Linked DNA regions of Homo sapiens: regions 2, 3, 4 and 5 are each linked to region 1. Evidence: fine-mapped expression QTL. A gene starts in region 1. Each other region holds a variant in brackets. All regions are shown on one strand. Distances are from middle to middle. Region 1 holds the start of BTBD1 (BTB domain containing 1). Region 2 overlaps EFL1 (elongation factor like GTPase 1). Region 3 overlaps TM6SF1 (transmembrane 6 superfamily member 1). Region 4 overlaps BTBD1 (BTB domain containing 1). Region 5 has its middle 18 kb from the start of TM6SF1.

Region 1 (4,150 bases):
AAAAATTTTTTTAGAGACAAGTGGAGAAACAAATATTAACTGTACATTAAATATTATACATAGGACCAGGCCTGGTGGCTCATGCCTGTAATCCCAGCACTTTGGGAGGCCGAGGCGGGTAGATCACGAGGTCAGGACTTGGAGAGGAGCCTGGCCAATATGGTGAAACCCCGTCTCTACTAAAAATACAAATAATTAGCTGGATGTGGTGACACGCACCTGTAACCCCAGCTACTCGGGAGGCTGAGGAGGAGAATCGCTTGAGCCCGGAAGGCAGACTTCATGCCATTGCACTCCAGCTTTGGCAACAGAGCGAGACTCCGTCTCAAAAAAAAAAAAATCATATATAGATGATTTGATGATATGGTTAATTTTGTTAGGTGTGATAATGGTATCATTAGTAGCATGATGTCCCTTTGTCTTTAGGAATTGCCGGCTGGCAATGGGGAAGGGGTTGTGCATCCACTATTTCAGCCCCTACTACTTTAAGTCTCTTCCCAAGCACGTTCCTCTCCCAAAGAAGTTACCATTCTAAATGCCTAACAGCTGGAAGTCCCCTCTGGTGGTTTCACAAGTGGAGTGATTTTACAGGAGAAACCCAGGTTTGGGGTTTACTATTTACTTGACGGCATTTGTAATCTGTAAGGCTCTTCCTGCAAAGAACAGGTGTTTCCAACTATACGTGCCTGGTCAAGGACTATTTCTTGGGTTTTCTACGTTCTGCTTTTGACAGCTGACTTAACTCAGGGCCTGCCTCACTGAAGGGAGAAAAAGGAAGGCCTCGGTCCCCCAATCATGATGACCGGGTTGTAAATACTGCCTGGGAAGGGATAATACAGCCTTTTCCATTGTGTGTGTGTTTTAGTTTTTAATTTTTTAAATTTCAAGCTTAGGCAGTGGTTCAGTGCAAGGACTGAAAAGCGCTACAAGAGAAGGTGGGCAAGCACGAGGGGTTTCAAATACAGGGGTGGAAGCAGTAGAAGGAAATGTCTCTTAGGCCCAGAGGACGGAACCAAAGGGTCAATTAGAAGGGAAAGGGACCTGCGGACCTGGGGAGAGGTCACTGGGGTTCTAAGCCTTCCACCTCTGCTTCCGGAATTTCCACGGGTTTCGCGGCCTTCTGGAGCGGCGACTTGGCCACGCTTGGGGTACAGGGTTGTGGGAAGTCATGTCATCCCCTCCCTCACGTGTTCCCTTGGCCATACTTTCCTGCCCCTCCACTTCCAGGCAAAACACTCCTCGGGACAGGCCTTGGGACATGTCCCAGATACACAATGGGGGCGCTGGACTTGGTGATAAGGGGCCTGCAGGAAGAAAAAGGCAGCCGTGAGAGCCGCCTGCAGATCCACGATGCATCTTAAAATTACAAATTCTCAGGCCCTACCCCAGACCTACTGAGTCAGAATACCCAGGGCACTGAGCCAGGGGGTGGGTGCCCGTAGGCCCGGCAGCACCCAGCCTGCAGAAGCTCCACCTCCGGGAGCGCTGAGCTAGGACCAGCTCCCCACGCCCCTGCCCTGGGGCTGCCGGGAGTCCAGTCCTGTTACACCTCCCGCGGCCGCGCACAGCGGCAACCCGGGCGTGCGGGGGCGCGCGCGGTCAGGGAGGGGCCTGCGGAGGCGCGAGGCCCCCGGAAGCGCCTTTCCCGGAAGGCAGGGAGGCAGCGCCGGCCTCCGGAGGCGGCCTGGGCGATGGCGGCGGAGTTTTGTCCATAACGTGGGCAACCGCGCAGCTGGAGGATGGCCTCACTCGGGCCTGCCGCAGCTGGGGAGCAGGCGTCGGGGGCTGAGGCGGAGCCGGGCCCCGCGGGGCCGCCGCCGCCGCCCTCACCGTCCTCTCTGGGGCCCCTGCTCCCCCTGCAGCGGGAACCTCTCTACAACTGGCAGGCGACCAAGGCGTCGCTGAAGGAGCGCTTCGCCTTCCTCTTCAACTCGGAGCTGCTGAGCGATGTGCGCTTCGTACTGGGCAAGGGTCGCGGCGCCGCCGCCGCTGGGGGCCCGCAGCGCATCCCCGCCCACCGCTTCGTGCTGGCGGCCGGCAGCGCCGTCTTTGACGCCATGTTCAACGGCGGCATGGCCACCACGTCGGCCGAGATCGAGCTGCCGGACGTGGAGCCCGCAGCCTTCCTGGCGCTGCTGAGGTGAGCGGCAGCGCGGGCCGGGCCGGGCCGGGCCGGGCCGGGCCGGGCCGGGCTGGGAGATCCCCGGGGCCCGGCCTACCCGGACTCCCGGATGACCTTGGGCTGGGCTCTTCTGACCCGCCCGGGGCCTCAGTTTCCTCCCGAGCCGTTGATGCTCCGGAGGGTCGAAATCGAAATCTGTGAACCAGGACGGCTCAGTCGCCAACTAAACGTTAGTGTCTTCATTAGGCAAGCGTGCGTTTTACCATTGAAAGGCGTTTCGCATTCCAATTATGGATTGTCGCTCAGACTTCAGAATTAGACAAGTGGCAAGGATAGAGGGGCAGATCAGGTTGTCCTGATTGCCCATTTGCGAAGTTTTATGTTTTTGTTTGGGGGAAGAGAGTAGTTGAAAAATCTTGCAGGACTGATGTTTTGGGGTTATTGTCACCCCCTTCCCCCCGCTTTTTTTGAGACAAGGTCTTGCTCTGTTGCCCAGGCTGGAATGCTGTAGCGCGATCATGGCTCACTGCAGCCTCGACCTCTCCGGGCTCAGGTGATGCTCCGACCTCAGCCTCCCGAGTATTTGGGACTACAGGCACGCGCCACCACGCCCGGCTAATTTTTTTTATTTTTATTTTTGGTAGAGAGAGGGTTTCACTATGTTGCCCAGGCTGGTCTCGGACTCCTGGGGTCAAGCGATCCGTCCACCTCGGCCTCCCAAAGTGCTGGGATTACAGGCGTGAACCACCGCGCCTGGCCACTTTTTTGTTTTTGTTTTTGTTTTTCATTAACGTATTAGTTGTCAAGACCCAGGAAAGTAAATACGAAAACAGACAAGTGAGGCTTTACCTGCTTTGTGTTTCTACACACAAGGTCACATTTGCTTATAAATGAATCCCTCCCTTGATGTTAGAATTTGCTTGTTGGTTATTTGAGGATAGTAGATTGACATCTAATGAAAAGGTGATTGTTTGGCATTACTAGCTTTTAATCACAGCCATCCTGTTAGGGAGGCGTAAGAATTGTTTACCCCAATTTCACAAATGGGACTGAGGCCCAGAAGAGTCAAGTATCTTGCCCAAGGTAACAAACAGCTAACTCACACTGAAGACCATGTCTGTTTCATTATACTAAGATGGTTTTAAATAGCTGCCTGAGTAGAACGTGTTGTTATTAAAATGGCAGAGTCTTGGGTAGTACTGAAGCAAAAACAGGCAGGTCAGTGGGACAGAATTAGATACAAAGGTTCACAGTTGAATCAGAAAGATGAACAAGAAAATGAATGTAAAGTTCACACAACTAGAAACAAATAATAAGATTCCATTGACGAATGGATAAAGGACAGGATAGATAACTTAGAGAAAGAAAAAATACAACTAATTAACGAATGTTTTACCTGGCTGGTAATTAGGAAGTGCAAATTAAAAGACAGTGGTATTTTTTCCTTCCATTAATCCCACCAAAAAATTTAAAGGTAACATCTGAACAGCATTTTCTGACAAAGATGGTGGTAAAAACCCTTTTGGAAAACAGTTTGGTGCTATAGATTTTCTTTCCACACGTAAGAAGCATTCAAGTATTGCAAATTGCATACAAAAATATTTACAGCTTTATTTATAGTAGTGAGGAAGTAGTCAGCTGTAGGGAATGGTTAAACAGTGGTAGGTTCACTTGATGAGATATAATGCAGTCACTAAATATGACGGATAGCACTTGAAACTGCACCATGGTTACAACGTGAAAAGACATGGAACAAACATATACCTAGAGACCGGGATAAAAGGAAACATACCAAAATGCTAAGCAAAGTCACCTGGAGTAGTGAGATGAAAGTACCTTTTTTTCTTCTTTATTCTTTGTTTCTGATATTTTCTGTAATTTAGTTCAGTTACATTTATAAAGGGGGGGGACCTCAAAAGCTAAAATCCAGGTCATTTTAGTTTAAAGTTCACCAGGAGGATTGGGTATAGTTCATTTGGATTTTCTAGACTAGAAGTAGTTTTCAAAATGATCTGTGGGCCGTCTGCA
Region 2 (4,150 bases), 820 kb after region 1:
AATGCTACTCATTCATTCATGTTCCACGTATCTCTGGGTTAGCATATGGGATTGCCATTCTTTTTGTTCCCAGATCTGATTACAAAAGTTAATTCTTCTACCCTTGTTTTCAAACTTCTTCTTTCAAGACTCAGACCATCCAATTATTCACCTTTCCAGTCATTGTCAGCTCCTGGTGATGGTTCCTGTTCATTAGTGAATTTGGCACCCGGACTCATAATTGTTCTTTTTACCTGAATCTTCTAAGGTGGCTTTTCACCATCCCTGAGAATGACTTCTTCAACAGCTTATCCTCTCAACAACATTGATTCTGCGTTTCACCTACCTGTTGTCATGAATACTTTCTGGATTTTAGCATCACCTTGAGCTATCCATCTTCGACCTTTCAAACTTAAATACTTCCTTCTCTACAATCTTTGATTCTCCCAGCTCTTTCTTTCACCTGATTAATGAGGTACCCATTCTTTGACTTCATAATGTTCTCTAGTTTTTTTGACTCCCCACAGCCTCTTTCTTCATTCATTTCCTGCTTCATACAGCCCAGATTTGTCATTTCACTGACAGTCTTGCCAGCGTCTTCAGTCTCTTTGGTTCTTGACCTTCTGTCATATTTTTCCCAACAAAACTTTAACCCTTGATAAAGCTAATTCTCTACACGTCTTCATCCTTGCATTTGGGCTAGGTTCTCAAGTGGTCCTCCAGACTGCTGGCAGATTTCCCATCTCTCACTGTTAGGTCTTGCTCATTCTTCCCAATACCTATTTTAAACCTTCTGGTCTCTTTCAGCCTACCTGTCATCCCCTCCTCCACAATCTCAGCAGACATTCTTACCTTCTATTTCACAGAAAAGAGAAGAATTCTCACCTGCTTGCCACTGTATCTCAAAACGTAATGGTATGGGCATTTTTTGCTTGCCTCCTGTCACTGGCAAAAACCTGTGCTCTGGACTTAATGATCTTTTCTTCAGTATCTTCCACCTCTCCCTCTGTACTGGCTTGTATCCATCAGCTTTTAAGCATGCTCAAGTCTTTCTTGTCTTTCTTGTCTTAAAAAAATACATAAATCCTTCTTTCAGCCCCACATTCCTCTGCATTTTCCCTCTTCCCCCTTCTTAGTCAAAGTTATCCTACAATTACTCTCTCAATTACTCCGATAATGAGACTAGCACCTTACAGTAATGACATGCATTAGCAGTGTGAAATTGGTCCTTGATCTATGACCTTCTCTCCAGGGTGATGCTAAGCATAGAGAGATTATAAGAAGTAAACATCAACCTTTTTTTTACTCCAGGGTTTCTTATTCTGGTTCTTACACCCTTCCAAGCAAAACTGCCAATGATCAAAGGAATCAAGACAATGTGGATGTGTAATTATTAGATTTACTATCTACGCAGCAGGCCTTGAAAGGTGGAGAAGTTCTCAGTGATGTCAGAGTTCAGGGTGTGGCCACAGTACTGGGTGGCAGATGTGGACTGGCATCATACTGAGAAAAACCAAAAGCGGGTGAGGCCAAATGTAATCAGAAGTGGTCTGTACGTGGTCTAGTTTCATGTTGGAGGAAGGTCTGGAGAGGTCTTCGGGTCGGGTTTGTGCAGCAAAAGAAAACTTAATCAGTTTGCTATTCATAGTTGTTTCTAGATCATTTTTCCTCTCATTTTCCTAACCCCTGTCACTTTTTTTTTTTTTTTAAGACAAGAGTCTCATTCTATCACCCAGGCTGGAGTGCAGTGGTGATCATAGCTCACTGCAGCCCAGAACTCCTAGGCTCAAGCAGTCCTCCTGCCTCAGCCTCCCGAGTAGCTAATACTGCAGGCATGTGCCACCATGCCTGGCTAATTTTTTAAATTTTTTTGTAGAGATGATGGTCTTACCATGTTGTCCAGGCTGGTCTTGGCTCAAGTGATCTTCCTGTTTTGGCCTTCCAAAGCATTTGGATTATAGGTATGAGCCACTGTGCCTGACCCC[A/C]TCTCAGTTTTGACACATACTATCAGAGTCAACCACCCTTCACCTCTCCTTGTGGCAGGCTTCTCATAAAGATAGTTACCCTGTTACCTGTGTCAGCTTTACAATTGTGCTTTACAGTTCTGTCAAATAATAAGTCGTATTAGTTGATTTATAACTTATAATGTTATACATTGATTTAAAATATAAAAGGATAATAGTGATTTAAGATATAAAAGGAAACCAGGTGCAGTGGCTCACATCTGTAATCCCAGCACTTTGGGAGACTGAGGCAGAAGGATCACTTAGGGACAGGAGTTTGAGACCTGCCACGGCAACACAGTGAAACCCCATCTCTACAAAAAATAAAAGTTACCCTTGTGTGCCTGCAGTCCCTGCTACTTGGGAGGCTGAGGCAGGAGGATCGCTTGAGCCCAGGAATTTGAGGCTGCAGTGAGCTATGATTGTGCCACTGCATCCAGCCTGAATGTTTCAGTGAGACCCTGTCTCTAAAAAAAACAAAAAACAAAAAAAAGTAGTATTTCCTGTGGAGGGAGACTTGTGGTTACTTTATATATAGTTGGGGTACAATTTTTGTATATAATTGTTAGAAGTTCATACATAAGGAATGTAGGAACATGTCTTCAGATAACTCAGGTTCTGCCTATATTTCTGTTATTTTTGTTGTCAGGCAAAATACTCTACCAATACACTGACACATAAAGGACACTTTCAGGAGGTTCAGATCTTCTTCCATAACTTCAGTTTTTCTTTTTTATTTTATGGAAAGTTTTCTCTCATCAGCTTTCTATGTATGCTTTAGTGAGCATTTCCAGTGTTTTGGAAGTTGAACACTAAACTCCTTACATGAAGTTTTACTGAATACAGAGATGTTTTGGCAGGTCCTAGTGACAAATGTGCACCTTCTGTGAGACAATTATCCATGGCACTTTAAAACCATGGGCAAGGGAGGAATTCTTTTCCCATAACTCCCTATTAGCAGCAGAAATTGTCTGGAAGATATCTCCCATAATTAACTTCAGTTCTTCCAACTTTTTTTTCAGCCCCCTGGAACATAAAAAGATTGGATTGTTGCTTGACTGATTAGATCTGTGCCTTGAAATGAAGCCGTTTAGTTTGGAATGCCTGGGAAGTAAAGCAGCAGAAGTTTCTGTCCCTGAATGCTATTGCAGGGATTAATTCAACATATAGCTTCAGGACTTTGTTACAAATCGGAAAGATCATTTAGCATGCTTAAAAAATTTTGTCTCTTGAAAAGTGTTATGCATTCTCTACTTTTTAAATAATTAATACTGGCAATAACAATAATATCTACCATGGTAAACCCCTATAACTGCGTTTATGTATTTTTTAATTTGATCACACACACGCAAAAGTGGTAAGTGGCATTTTTTAAAGAGACATAATGTGGCTGAAGTCACAGCAGAAGAGCTGTGCTTGGGGACGTTTTTTCTCTAATGGATATGGGACTTCTGTCCCCAACCTTTGAAATTTAGGTTAACGTTGTTTGGAAAGGGTTAAGATGAAAAAGGCATTGAAGGAGGAATTGGGAGGCCTGGCTCAGAGCTGAGCCAAGCCTTTGTCAGCTGTGTAACTGACCATGGCATTTCCTCCTTCTCACCATTAAATATATTTGAGAAACTCCAGGTTAAACAGAATTGGACAAACTTCTTTTACAGGGCTTCTCTGAACCTTTAATATGTATGTGTGATGTGAGCTCCAAGGCTGGCTGTTTATTTCTCAGCTATATTATTTGATCAGACACTTATTTTTTAGGATGTAGATTGTCGGGTGGAAACACTTGGTGTATCTCTAGCTTTCAGTTCCTCTCTAGATCTGAACCTGCCCTTCCTGAATGAATTTCAAAGAATCTGGAAATGGACGCGTACTTAGGGGAGCATAGATAAGTAGATAGGTATTCGTTTTTCTGACTATTCCCTAAAAGGTCTGTAACTCCAATAAAAGGTAAGAGCACTGTTGTATAGGAAGCCTGAAATGTCTGTACGAGTGCATTTTTAGACTCTGTAAAGAACTTGACTGGAGACCCAGTCTCTGAAACTTCAGTATCAGGTCCCGGTCGTATCACAAAGGATGGAAAAGTGCTTGAAGTTCTCCCACTCTAAAGTCTGGAGTTTAGCCAGATGAATAGGCAAGTGTTGTTTCCCCAGTTGCAAAGTATGAAGGAATCT
Region 3 (4,000 bases), 55 kb before region 1:
GATCTTGCTAAATGATCTAATACCTAGAAAAGTAAAAGAAACAGAGAGAAACTAGCTTAGAAATGAAGGCCTTAACAGAGTATCTGCCAGGCCAGTGCTGTTTCACCTTGACTACCTTGGCTGTGAATGGAAGGGAGGTGTCTCAGATGTCCTGTAGCCAGTCTCTATGGGCCTGGATCTCTGGAGTCAAGATTGTATGGCTGTGTAGACTACCTTGAGGAGCAGTATCCCTCCAGTGTCCTCTTGGGGTAGTAAATGCATAGGTGTCACAGAGGAACCCAGGTGTTCAACGTCCAGGCCATTAACAATCCTAGATGAACCACACACTATGGACTTCACTTGACACACTAATGCAGAATCTGATAGTTAGAGCCAGTGTGACCACTGGCACAGGAAGCTCCCCAAAGTATGGCCTTGCCAACAGAAGCAGATGTATTCAGACAGAAACAGACCTTCTTGCCTACATTAATTAATACGTAAGCTAATGCTACATAATCAAAACAGTCGCACTGTTTGGATGCCCCAAATGCTCCAGTCCACAGAGGCATGGTTCAATTCAGTGGCCAGTGGATGCGAAAGAACCCTATGAGTTTGAGAACAGGGTACATCAAAGCTTAATAAAATCACCTTTGAGGGGTAATTATAATTTTCTGATGGCTGATTATAGATTCTGAAACCAGCCCAGACAGGAAGACAAGTATATGGTATGCTTAAGAAAAAAGCAGGGCAAATTCGTGTTCCATACTTCCCTATTTAAAAGAGAGAAAGAGAAAGAAGTTACCAAAAGCATATCTAACACAAGTAATATTTAGGATACCTCCCCATCTCAGGTCATCTAAAATTTTGCTATGGGCCAGACAATATTTTTAATGAGGCCAAATTAAAAAGGTCAATTTAAAATACTAGATGTGTATTAACAGGCATGTCCTATCTACAGTAATCTGCTTGAGCCCAGGAGATCAAGGCTGCAGTGAGCTATGGCTGTACCACTGCAAGCCAGCCTGGGCAACAGAGTGAGATCCTGTCTCAAAAAATACATCTAGATAGGTATCTATATATGTTTGTATATATCTATCTCCCTATATCTATATCTATCTATCTATCTATCTACCTATATATCCTGATTTCCTGCATACATTAATAATGTACTTGTAATTTCCAAGTACATTTTTGGAGTTCTCATAGTGTGTCAGGAGTTAACATATTTGCACACTAAATATAGCCATAAACACCATACTCACTCCCTCAAGATCCTTCTAAAAAAACAGGAATCCCTGATAACTTGACTGCCAAATTGTTCAATGCACACATCTGAAAATTGCTCAAAGCACTTCTTAAAAAGTACTTTTTTTAAAGGTGAGAAAAAGGAATTATTCTGCAAAACAGGTTTTTAGTAAGCTTGGAATCACTTGGTTCTATTATAACTAAAAGAGCTTCTCTATTTAAAAACAAGCCCCATTGTTTTAGAAAAGGAAAGTGAACTTTAAGATAAAGTTTCTTACCTACAATGTTTCCTGGCACAAAAACAACAACACTCATAATAATAGATCCAACCCAATATAGGCCAATGGTTCTATAAGTTTCCCTGTAACAACAACAACAAAAAAATCTTGACTTGGTATGTTTGTCTTAGAATACTAAGCAAAAAATGATCTTCAATATTATTTTGTATTCAAACTAGTAAAGTACATCAATCAAAACATATTGAATTGAGAGGAATAAATCAAACACAAGGAGCCCTGGTTATGTAACTTCATTGCCATGTGATATACTATAGAACCTTCTTCGTGTCCTTTTAAATAGGAAATTACGCCTGCTATGTCTTCTGTTAAACTACAACATGATCATCCCTGCCACAGGACTCCTGCATTTCCCTATTGTGTGTGAAACTCAACAGCATGAAAGGAAAAAGAAAGTTGAAAGAAGAAATGAAATTGGATCCATATTTTTAATCATTATAAGTATGAGTTATACTTACAATGATAATGTTAAATGGACTTTTTCTGGGGTCACAGAATTTTGGCCAAAGCCCCAAAGGTGAAGACAAGTGACATGTACCCCATGTTGCAAAGGAGCTGCTAGACATATACCCCAAATCTTCAATGCTGACAAAAACTTCCTTCAGGCCGAGCATGGTGGCTCATGCCTGTAATCCCAGCACTTTGAGAAGCTGAGGTGGGCAGATCACTTGAGGTCAGGAGTTTGAAACCAGCCTGGCCAACATGGTGAAACGCCATCTCTACTAAAAGTACAAAAAAAAAAAAAAAATTAGCTGGGCATGGTGGCATGCACCTGTAATTCCAGCTACTTGGGAGGCTGAGGCAGGAGAAATGGTTGAACCTGGGAGGC[A/G]GAGGTTACAGCGAGCCAAGATCGCACCACTGCACTCCAGCCTGGGTGACAGAGCGAGACTCCGTCTCAAAATAAAAAAAAAAAGTTCCTTCAATTGATAACCCCAATAACCCAAACTCCACACTATGTAACAGGCTATGAGAAATTCAAAAGGAAATTCTCTGAAGGGAAACGAGAATACTGTGTGCGTCCTGCCCCACCCCCGCCCTCAAGCCAAATGTAACCAGACCCCAAGAGGCCCATTCATAATGACTGGGATTATAAGCAGGAGAACAGATAAGAATGAGCTGGAGCCGGGCACGGTGGTTCACGCCTGTAATCCCAGCACTTTGGGAGGCTGAGGCGGGCAGATCACCAGAGGTCAGGAGTTTGAGACCAGCCTGGCCAACATGGTGAAAAAAATGTTTAGATTTGTGTACTAAAAATACAAAATTTGCGGGTATAGTGACACACGCCTGTAGTCCCAGCTGAGGCCTGAGAATCGCTTGAACCTGGGAGGCGGAGATTGCAGTGAGCTGAGATTGTGCCATTGCACTCCAGCCTGTCTCAAAAAAAAAAAAAAAAAAAAAGAATTAGCTGGAGCTGACCTTGAGTGCATGTTGGGAGTGAGGGAGATACTTGGGTAAACTACATTTCAACCTTGTATGGGGCAAGAATGCATGACTTTCTGTAACCCAGAAGCAAGTGGAGGCCTGAGAAGATGGCCGGACTTGAAATGTTTTGAAAAGACCCCTCCCCAAAGGGTGTACCTTCTGGGTTACAGGGGCCCCAGCAGAAAAAAAGCTGTGGGTGTGCCACCATGGGCAGAAATTCAGCCCAAGAGCACGTCGTTCACTTCAGGGATTAGTGCAATGCAGAAGCTCCTGTGGTTGGGGTCTCTAAAGAACTCACATGTGTGCCTCCCAAGACCAAGCTAGCATATCATGATGGGGGTACCAATACCCAAAAACCAGCACCTTTCACATCAGACTCGGCTCCTGTTCCTTTAATCCCTTGTACATACACATCCACTGCCAAGGGGCCAGCCGCAGAGTGAGACAGGAGGAGTGAACGGACAAGCCATGTAGCCAAGCCTTAGTGCGAGCCAAGCCGCAGAGCTGTGCCTGATCTGGGGAAGGACAGAAGCTTTGAACCGAAATGAGATTGCTGTTTGGAAATTTTGAAGTTTTGAAATGAAGTTTAAGATGTGCTTAGCTTTAATTGCTGAAAATAAAAATTATTCTTGTAAGACAACATAATCAGAAAGCTTAAAGGGTCTGCCCGAGCTGTCACCATGCTAGGGAGCAATTCAGAAGGACATATTCAAAAGGCAGTGGTACAAGGAGGATAAAGCCACGTCTGACGTGCACCCATGGAACTTATATTCATGTCCAGTATACCTGCTTGTGTATTTGCCTCTATGCATAACGTTTCCTTACATACCCGCTTATCGGTTGCTAAGGTGGCAAAGGCACACACCAGGTGAACTGACTTACTCCCATGCTATGGCTGCCACCATCACCAGGTACATCAGATAATGAGCAGAGCCATCCCAGTAGCAGATCATGTGCCCATATGCGGTGTTCAGATACGGTTCACCCTAAAGAAAGCATTAAAAAGAAGTCCACTTTAAATAAGACCTGTAAATGCAGAACATCAGACCTGTATTGCA
Region 4 (4,150 bases), 31 kb after region 1:
GGGATTACAGGCGTGAGCCACCGCACCTGGCCTGGTGGAATCTTTAGGGTTCTGTAGGTATAGAAGCATATCATCTGTGAAGAGAGATAGTTTGACTTCTTTTCTTATTTGGGTGCATTTTATTTCTTTTCCTTTCCTGATTGCTCTGGCTGGGACTACCAGTACTATGTTGAATAGGAGTGGTTAGAGTGAGCATCCTTGTCTTTTTCTAATTTCAAGGTGAATGCCTCTAGCTTTTGCCCTTTCAGCATGATGTTAGTTGTGGATTTATCATAGATGGCTCTTGTTATTTTGGGGATATTGTTTTGATGCCTAGTTTGTTGAGGGCTTTTATCATGAAGAGATGCTGGATTTTATTGAATGCTTTTTCATGTCTATTGAGACAGTCATATGGTTTTTATTTTTAACACTATTTCATGATTGTTTTGAATTGTATTACTTTTTATTTTTCGATTTTATTTTAGTTTTAAAGATGAAGTCTTGCCATGTTGCTCAGGCTGGCCATGAGCTTCTGGGCTCAAGTGATTCTTCCACCTTCACCTCTTAGCCAGTGTGCCTGGCTGAATTGTATTTCATTATGCTTATTGGCCTATTTATTTTCCTTTACATTATTCATGTCTTTTGTTGTTCTGTTGGTGTGTTCAAATTTTGTTTTACTGGTTTATCTTACATTGATTCTTTGTATATTTATTATTATACCAAATTTTTTTTTCTGACTTATACTTGTTCCAATTTTCTCCAAGATTGTTTTTGTTTTTGCTGATAAGAATCAGTGTTTGGGTTTTTTTTAAATAAACTTTTGAAATTAAAGTTTAACATCCATATAGTAAAATTAACAAATAAAGTGAACATACTTATTTAACCAATTTATCCTACTGTACTAGTACCCCAGAAGCCTTTGTCATGACCCTCTAAGTCACTAATCTCCCTCTGAAAGGTGACTACTTTCTGTCTTCTATAAATTAGTTGTGTCCATATGTAAACTTTATATAAAGGAAATCATATATATGGTGTGTATTCATTTTTGTGTGGCTTCTTTCTCTTAACATTACGCCTGTTAGATTCATCCATGTGGTTGAGTGTGGCAGTAGTTCATTCTTTTTCATTGCTTTATAATATTCTGTTATACAACTGTGCCATGATTTATCCATTTTACTGTTGTTGGATATATGGATTATTTCTGTTTGGGGACCATTGAGGCCATTCTTGTACGTGTGATTTGGTATACATACGTAAACATTTCTGTTGGATATATACGAGTGGAATTGCTAAGTCATGGAGTGTGCATATGGTCGGCTTTAGTAGATCCTGCCATCCTGCCAAACAGTCCCTTAAAGTGGTTGTAACAGTTTACACTCATCAACAAAGTGAAGAGACATAAGAGTTTGTTTTGGTTGCCCACATCCTCTCCAATACTTGGTATTGTCAGTTTTTGTAGTTCTAGCCATTTGTGTGGATGTGAGGACGTATTTCATTTTGGTTTTAAATTTCATATCACGGATGATTAATGATGTTGAATATGCCAATAATTTTTTAATCCAGTCTGACAGACTTTGTCTTTTATCTGAACTGTTTTGGTTCACTTGCACTTAATGTAATTACAGATATATTTGGGTTTATGTTTACCATCTTGCAATTTGTTTTCTACTTGTCACATCTTTTTTTTTTTTTTCCTTTCTTGCTTTCTTTTAGAGGAATCAAGCTATTATTCTTTTTTTTTTTTTTTTTTGGTAATGATACAGTTTTCCCCCTTATTCTGTGAATATAGTGAACTACATTAATTGATTTCCCAATTTAAACCTATTTTGGATTCCTTACGTAAATCAGACTTGGTTGTTATGCATTATCCTTTTTATATATTACTGGATTTAATTTGCTGAATTTTTAATGTATTTTTATGACTACTGAATGAGAGAAATTAGTCTATATATAT[T/A]TTTTTTTCTTGCAATGAAATTGTCAAAATTGTCCTCATACAAAAGTTAGAAATATTTCCTTTTTTTCCCCCAGTGTTCAAGAGTTTGTATTATTAATTTTCTCCTGGAACCAACTTCTAGCTTTATTAATTTTCTCTATTACAGTATGTTTTCCATTTCATTACTTTCTGCCTTTTTCTTTATTACTTTCTTTCCTTTCTTTGCTTTTAATTTGCTGGGGTTATTTATTTTATTAGTCTTTGTGACTTTTTGAGATACTTAGAAGGTCAACCTATATTCTTTTTGAATGCATATATTTAAGTGTATATTTTTTCTCTCAGCATCCTTCCCCCCCACAGTTTTTAATATGTGTATTTTCATTAGCATTCGATTAAGAATTTTTAATTTTTGCTTTTTTTTTCTTTGACTCATAAATTATAGATAACTTAATTTCCAAATATTTGAGATTTCTTCTTATCTTGCTCTTGCTGATTTCTGTCTTAATTCCAGTATAGTCAGAAAATATATTCTATATCATTTCAATGCTTTGAAATTTGTTGATATCTGCTTTGGCCCAGCATATGGTAGTTTTATTTATTTTTTATTATTTTGTTTTATTTATTTTTGAGACAATGTCTCACTCTGTCACCCAGGCTGGAGTGCAGTGGCATGATCTTGGCTCACTGTAACCTCCGCCTCCTGGGGTCCAACGATTCTCCTGCCTCAGCCTCCCCGGTAGCTGGGATTACAGGCATGCGGTGCCACGCTCGGCTAATTTTTATATTTTTAGTAGAGACAGGGTTTCACCATGTTGGCCAGACTGGTCTCAAACTCCTGACCTCAGGTGATCCACCCATCATGGCCTCCCAAAATGCTAGGATTACAGGCATGAGCCACCGTGCCTGGCCCATACGGTAGTTGTAATAAGTATCCATGTATACTTGAGAAGAATGTATTCTTCTTTGTTATGTGCAGAAAAACCTGAATAGTCCTGTATCTGTTCAACAGATTGAATACTATATCTATGAAAGGAATATATACTAATGATCTTCAAATTTTCTATGTATCTATCTATTGATTTGCTTTTTGTTCTATCAGTTACTAAAAGAAGTAGATTTAAATCTCAGGGTATGATTGAGAATGTGTTTCCTTTTGGTTCCATCAGTTTTCTTCTTTATTTTCTTCTTTATTTTAGGTACCTTCAAATTTAGGATTTTTTTTTATATTGAATTTGCTTCTTTATCTTTACAGTCTATCTCATCTTAAATCTAAACTTATTGTGGGTTTTTGTTTTTTATTTTATTTTTTGAGACAGTCTCCCTCTGTCACCCAGGCCGGAGTTCAGTGGCACAATCTTGGCTCACTGCAACGTCCACCTTCTGGGTTCAGGCAATTCTCATGCCTCAGCCTCCTTAGTAGCTGGGACTACATGTGTGCACCACCACACCCTGCTAAATTTTGTATTTTTAGTAGAGATGGGGTTTTGCCATGTTGGCCAGGCTAGTCTCGAACTCCTGGCCTCAAATGATCAGCTTGCCTCAGTCACCCAACATTCTGGCATGAGCCACCACGCCTGGCCTAAACTTCTTGTTTTAAAGTCTTTGTCTGATATTGGTATAGTTTCTCAAGGTTTTTTAAATTCTATATCTTTCTCATCCTTTTACTTTTAGCCTTACATTATTTTGACCATGTCTCTTGTAAGCTTCATTTTTAAAAAATTCAGTCTGACAGACTTTGCCTTTTATTTGGAATATTTGGTTCACTTTATATTTAATATGATTAATAGTCTATTAAACTTTCTTTTTCTTTTTCTTTTTTTTTTTTTTTTTGGTGTAGACAGTGTCTCCTCTGTCACCCAGGCTGGAATGCAGTGGCATGATCTCAGCTTACTCCAGCGTCAACCTCCTGGGCTCAGGTTATCCTCCCACCTCAGCCTCCCGTATTAAAGATTCTTTTATTATTATTTTAGTGGGTTGCCCTTGTTATTACAAGAATATATCCTTATTGATTTTTAAATTAAATCTTAAAAATTAAATTTTTTAGATGGGGCACAGTGGCTCATGCCTTTAGTCCCAGCACTTTGGGAGGCTGAGGCAGGTAGATTGTTTGAGTCGAGTTCAAGACCAGCCTCGGCAAAATGGCGAAACCCTGTCTTTACAAAAAAAAATTTAAAAATTAGCCTGGAGTGGTGGTACACACCTGTAGTCCCAGCTACCTGGGGGGCTGAGGTGGGGATC
Region 5 (4,150 bases), 23 kb before region 1:
AGCGATTCTCCTGCCTCAGCCTCCTGAGGACTACAGGCACACACCACCATGCCTGGCTAATTTTTGTATTTTTAGTAGAAACGGGGTTACACCATGCTGGCCAGGCTGGTCTTGAACTCCTGACCTTGTGAGCTGCCCGTCTTGGCCTCCAAAAGTGCGGGGATTACAGGCATGAGCCACTGCGCCCGGCCTAATTTTGTATTTTTAGTAGAGATGGAGTTTCTCCATGTTGTCCAGGCTGGTCTCGAACTCCTGACCTCAGGTGATCTGCCCGCCTCAGCCTCCCAAATTTCTGGGATTACAGGTGTGAGCCACTGCGCCCATCCTAGTGAAACTTTTAAGCAGAGGAGTGACATGCTCAGCTTGGCCATTTTAGTAGCTTAGTCTGGTAGATATACAGAGAATGAGGTGAGGGGGTATGAACTAGGCAGCAAAGAGCTGAGAAGAGCAGTAATCTAAGCTACAAATGAACGGGTCTTGACTATGGCGGCTGCAACGAAAGGAGAAAGGAAAGGTTAATTAGGAATCAAATCTAAGAGTTTGATGATTAAATGGATGTTGAGAAACATGGACCACAGAAGAATTTAGGGATGACAGCTGGCTGGGAGAAGGAAAAGGAAAGGGAACTAAAAGGACTAAGGTATACTGAGAGATGCTGAGACCTATTTGGGTTCTTCTCTGAGGCCTGGAAACAAGGTCCTCCTTCCTTGTGCTTGTGGCTGCCCAAATAAAATCAAGTTTTATAAACCAGGGAAGAAAGGAGAAAAAGATGTTGGGTAGTGCTTATAAGATAGAAACTTGTTGTATGCTTGACGCATTACTTTCAGTGCCTGTCTTGATTCTCAAGCAACTCTACAAGGTACTGTTTTCACTGGGAACACATGAAGTTACAGGTAACAGAATGCATAAATCTGGTTTAAGCCATGAAGACATTTGAAAATCTGACATAAGAATCCTGGAGAAAGAAGTTTCCTTTTTAGCTGCAGTGGCTCAAGGATGTCATTAAGAACCCGGCCTCTTTATGTCTTCCTAATCCTCCTCCTCAACACGTTGGTTTTTCACTCTTAAGCTTGTCAACACAAGGCTTTTCCCTTTCCGGGATTTTATCTTTAACTAGGCTACAAGAATCTTTCCAAAAGCCTGCTTCCAGACTCTTCCATCTCATTGGCCATAATTGGCCACATGCTGAGTTCAGAAGCAATCTCTAGCAGGGGAACGGGCTAAGCTTCAATCAATCATGACTTTTCTCTGAGGCCTGGGGACAGGTATTCCTTCTTTGTACATGTTGTGGCCCAAATGAAATCAGGTTGTATTAACTAGGAAAGAAGAAGAAATAACTGTTAGGTAATGGTAGTAAGTCATATTTCCAACCTTCAGAACATCTGAGGAAAGGGGACAAAAAGAAAAAAGAATTGACCCAGGTCAATCTCCTAAATGCTTTTTTTTTTTTTGAGACAGAGTTTCACTCTATTGCCAGGCTGGAGTGCAGTGGCACAATCTCGGCTCACTACAACCTCCACCTCCCAGGTTCAAGCGATTCTCCTGCCTCAGCCTCCTGAGTTGCTGGGACTACAGGCAGGCACCACCACGCCCAGCTAATTTTTAGTAGAGATAGGGTTTCACCATGTTGGCCAGGATGGTCTCAATCTCCTGACCTTGTGATCCGCCCACCTCAGCCTCCCAAAGTGCTGGGATTACAGGC[G/A]TGAGCCACCACACCTGGCCCAATCTCCTAAATACTTATTGATGGCATTTACAATCAGAAAGATAACAAAAAGCCCTTATTTATGCAATAATTTACCAGGATATAGCTGATCTGTCAGCTGTGTAATTACTGAAGTATAAAACGAAGGTGTTTCCTGACCTCTTTGTGTAAGTTATATCCTGCATGCATCACTTAAAAACCTCCTATGTCCATTTTGTGCCAGGGTGCATCCTAATATGGCGAGAGAGGACCGGGAGCTGCACTGGTGGTCCTCAGCATCTCTGTGCTTGGCCCAAGTCTCAATATCATGTGTATCTTTCGAATTCTCAGTAAAGGCCAATACTGGATAAGATTACTGAGTCCTGTGAGTCTAATTGAACAATCTGATCTTTTATGTTATCCTAGGTAGGTAAACAACAATGTTATTATCCCCATTTGACAGAAGAAGAAATAGAAACCTAGCAAGGTTTAAAACCTTGCCCAGGCCGGGCACAGTGGCTCACGCCTGTAATCCTAGCACTTTGGGAGGCCAAGGCAGCCAGATATCCTGAGGTCAAGAGTTTGAGACCAGCCTGGCCAACATGGTGAAACTCCGTCTCTACTAAAAATACAAAATTAGCTGGGCGTGGTGGCGCGCACCTGTAATCCCAGCTCCTCAGGAAGCTGAGGCAGGAGAATCACTTGAACCCAGCAGGCAGAGATTGCAGTGAGCTGAGATTGCGCCACTGCACTCCAGCCTGGGCAACAAGAGAGAAACTCTGTCTCAATTAAAAACAAACAAACAAACAAACAAACAAACAAAAATCCTTGCCCAAATTCACCTAGCTATTGATGAGTAGACCAGGATAGCAGGATAGCAACTGGGGCTTAGCTAGTTTCTACCACAGCATGTGGCTAACTGGTTGGTGGTGTTATTCCCTGAAATAGGAATGTGATGAACTCTTTCCCCTCATCTCTGGACACAACTGTATGACATAGCTAGCACATTTCTGTCACATTCTTATATAAATGATCTGTTGAGGCCACAGGCTATCGTCAGACAGCCAGACATTCTTCCCGCTTCACTACCAGGATTTTGGCTGGATTTTTTTTAAGGTAGCAGAAATTTACTTACAAGGAATTGAAAGAGGCTCCAGGGAAGGAGATGTAGTCAGTTCAGTTTGACATGTCTGTAGGACACCAACAGATTTCTAGATGTTTGAATATTCAAAACAAGTATTATGCTAAGAATGATCAGGGCTGGAGATACAGCTTTGGAGATCACCAGCACTAGCTGAAATCATGGGAATCCATGAGATTAAGCAGAAAGTGGGTTGAGAGTAGGAAGTAGACAGCCAAGGATGGAAGCATGGGTAATACCAGTGCCCACGGTGGGGCAGAAGAGGAGGTTGTGATACAGCAAACTGAAAAGAAAACATTAGAGAAAGACAAGTGTGAAAAATTATAAAACTGTGTTACAAATTCCAGGTAAGGAGAGTTTCAAGGAGTGAATGGTCAACCACCAAGCCCAGTGAGGTCAAATAACATGACAGAAAAAGACTCATGGACTTGGCAGGTAGGAGATCACCAGCCAGTGGCCTTAGAGCCACTCAGGGGAGTGGTGGCCAGAGCCAGACCACAGCGGCATGAAGACTGTGAGGAGATGAAAATGTGGAGTGAAGAAACTTTGATAGGAAGGAAGAAGAAAGGAAGACACTCAGAAGCTGAAGCAGAGGCTTTGAGGAGATGTTTTTCTGTTAGGGAAATTAGTTATGTATTTGTGGATATCAAGGAAAGGAACCAGTGGAAATGGAGACATCAAAGTCACCAGAAAGGAAATGGACAGGCCAGGCACGGTGGTTCACGCCTGTAATCCCATCACTCTGGGAGGCTGAGGCGGGTGGATCACCTGAGGTCAGGAGTTCGAGACCAACCTGGCCAACGTGGAGAAACCCCATCTCTACTAAAAATACAAAATTAGCCGGGCATGGTGGCGCATGCCTGTAATTGCAGCTACCTAGGAGGCTGAGGCAGGAGAATTGCTTGAACTCGGGAGATGGAGGTTGTGGTGAGCCAAGATCGCAACACTGCACTGCAGTCTGGCCAACAAAAGCAAAACTCCGTCTCAAAAAAAAAAAAGAAAAAAAAATGGACAGGTAATTTAGCAAGACAGCAAGGGAATAAACTCAACAGCAAAGATGGAAAATTTAGCCTTGAAAAGAAGGGAAATTTCTGAGGCTGGAAGGAAAGAGATAAGCAGACCTACTTATAGCTGGGTTGATTTAGTTTCTGTTGGCTGGGAAATGAGTAAAGATGGGCAAAGTTAAATAAAATGTGTTCACATAATCAGTCTGGTCTATATTTATTTCCCTGTAACCAGAGAGGCAGCATATTCTAGCATCGTAGACTCTGAAACCCAACCTGCTGCTTTGAATTTTACTTCTGGCCATGACATGCTTTTTCGTGGAA

Evidence for each region. PIP is the estimated chance that this variant, and not a neighbour inherited with it, causes the effect.
Region 2: its variant is fine-mapped to the expression of BTBD1 in lung (TOPMed, PIP above 0.99).
Region 3: its variant is fine-mapped to the expression of BTBD1 in whole blood (TOPMed, PIP above 0.99).
Region 4: its variant is fine-mapped to the expression of BTBD1 in whole blood (TOPMed, PIP above 0.99).
Region 5: its variant is fine-mapped to the expression of BTBD1 in whole blood (INTERVAL, PIP above 0.99).

Annotation. Positions count from the first base shown.
Region 1 is chr15:83,064,741-83,068,890 of GRCh38, reverse strand. It overlaps BTBD1 (BTB domain containing 1), which reads left to right and starts at 1,639. Exons shown (of 8, transcript NM_025238.4): 1 at 1,639-2,140. The coding sequence starts at 1,740. MIR4515 (microRNA 4515) reads right to left here and starts at 1,556; the gene lies at 1,476-1,556. RefSeq lists enhancers at 1,192-1,241, 1,252-1,371 and silencers at 1,432-1,911, 2,152-2,321.
Region 2 is chr15:82,243,471-82,247,620 of GRCh38, reverse strand. All of the region lies in intron 4 of EFL1 (elongation factor like GTPase 1), which reads left to right. Among named protein-coding and RNA genes, the nearest start is that of EFL1, 17 kb to the left of the region's middle. The variant A/C (reference allele first, on the strand shown) is at 1,965.
Region 3 is chr15:83,119,506-83,123,505 of GRCh38, reverse strand. It overlaps TM6SF1 (transmembrane 6 superfamily member 1), which reads right to left. Exons shown (of 10, transcript NM_023003.5): 4 at 3,825-3,928; 5 at 1,503-1,585; 6 at 628-749. It also overlaps a transcript of HDGFL3 not described here. Among named protein-coding and RNA genes, the nearest start is that of TM6SF1, 14 kb to the right of the region's middle. The variant A/G (reference allele first, on the strand shown) is at 2,350.
Region 4 is chr15:83,033,683-83,037,832 of GRCh38, reverse strand. All of the region lies in intron 4 of BTBD1 (BTB domain containing 1), which reads left to right. The region is part of intron 1 of LOC124903542 (a long non-coding RNA gene); the gene reads right to left. Among named protein-coding and RNA genes, the nearest start is that of C15orf40, 24 kb to the right of the region's middle. The variant T/A (reference allele first, on the strand shown) is at 1,934.
Region 5 is chr15:83,087,685-83,091,834 of GRCh38, reverse strand. No RefSeq gene overlaps it. Among named protein-coding and RNA genes, the nearest start is that of TM6SF1, 18 kb to the left of the region's middle. The variant G/A (reference allele first, on the strand shown) is at 1,703.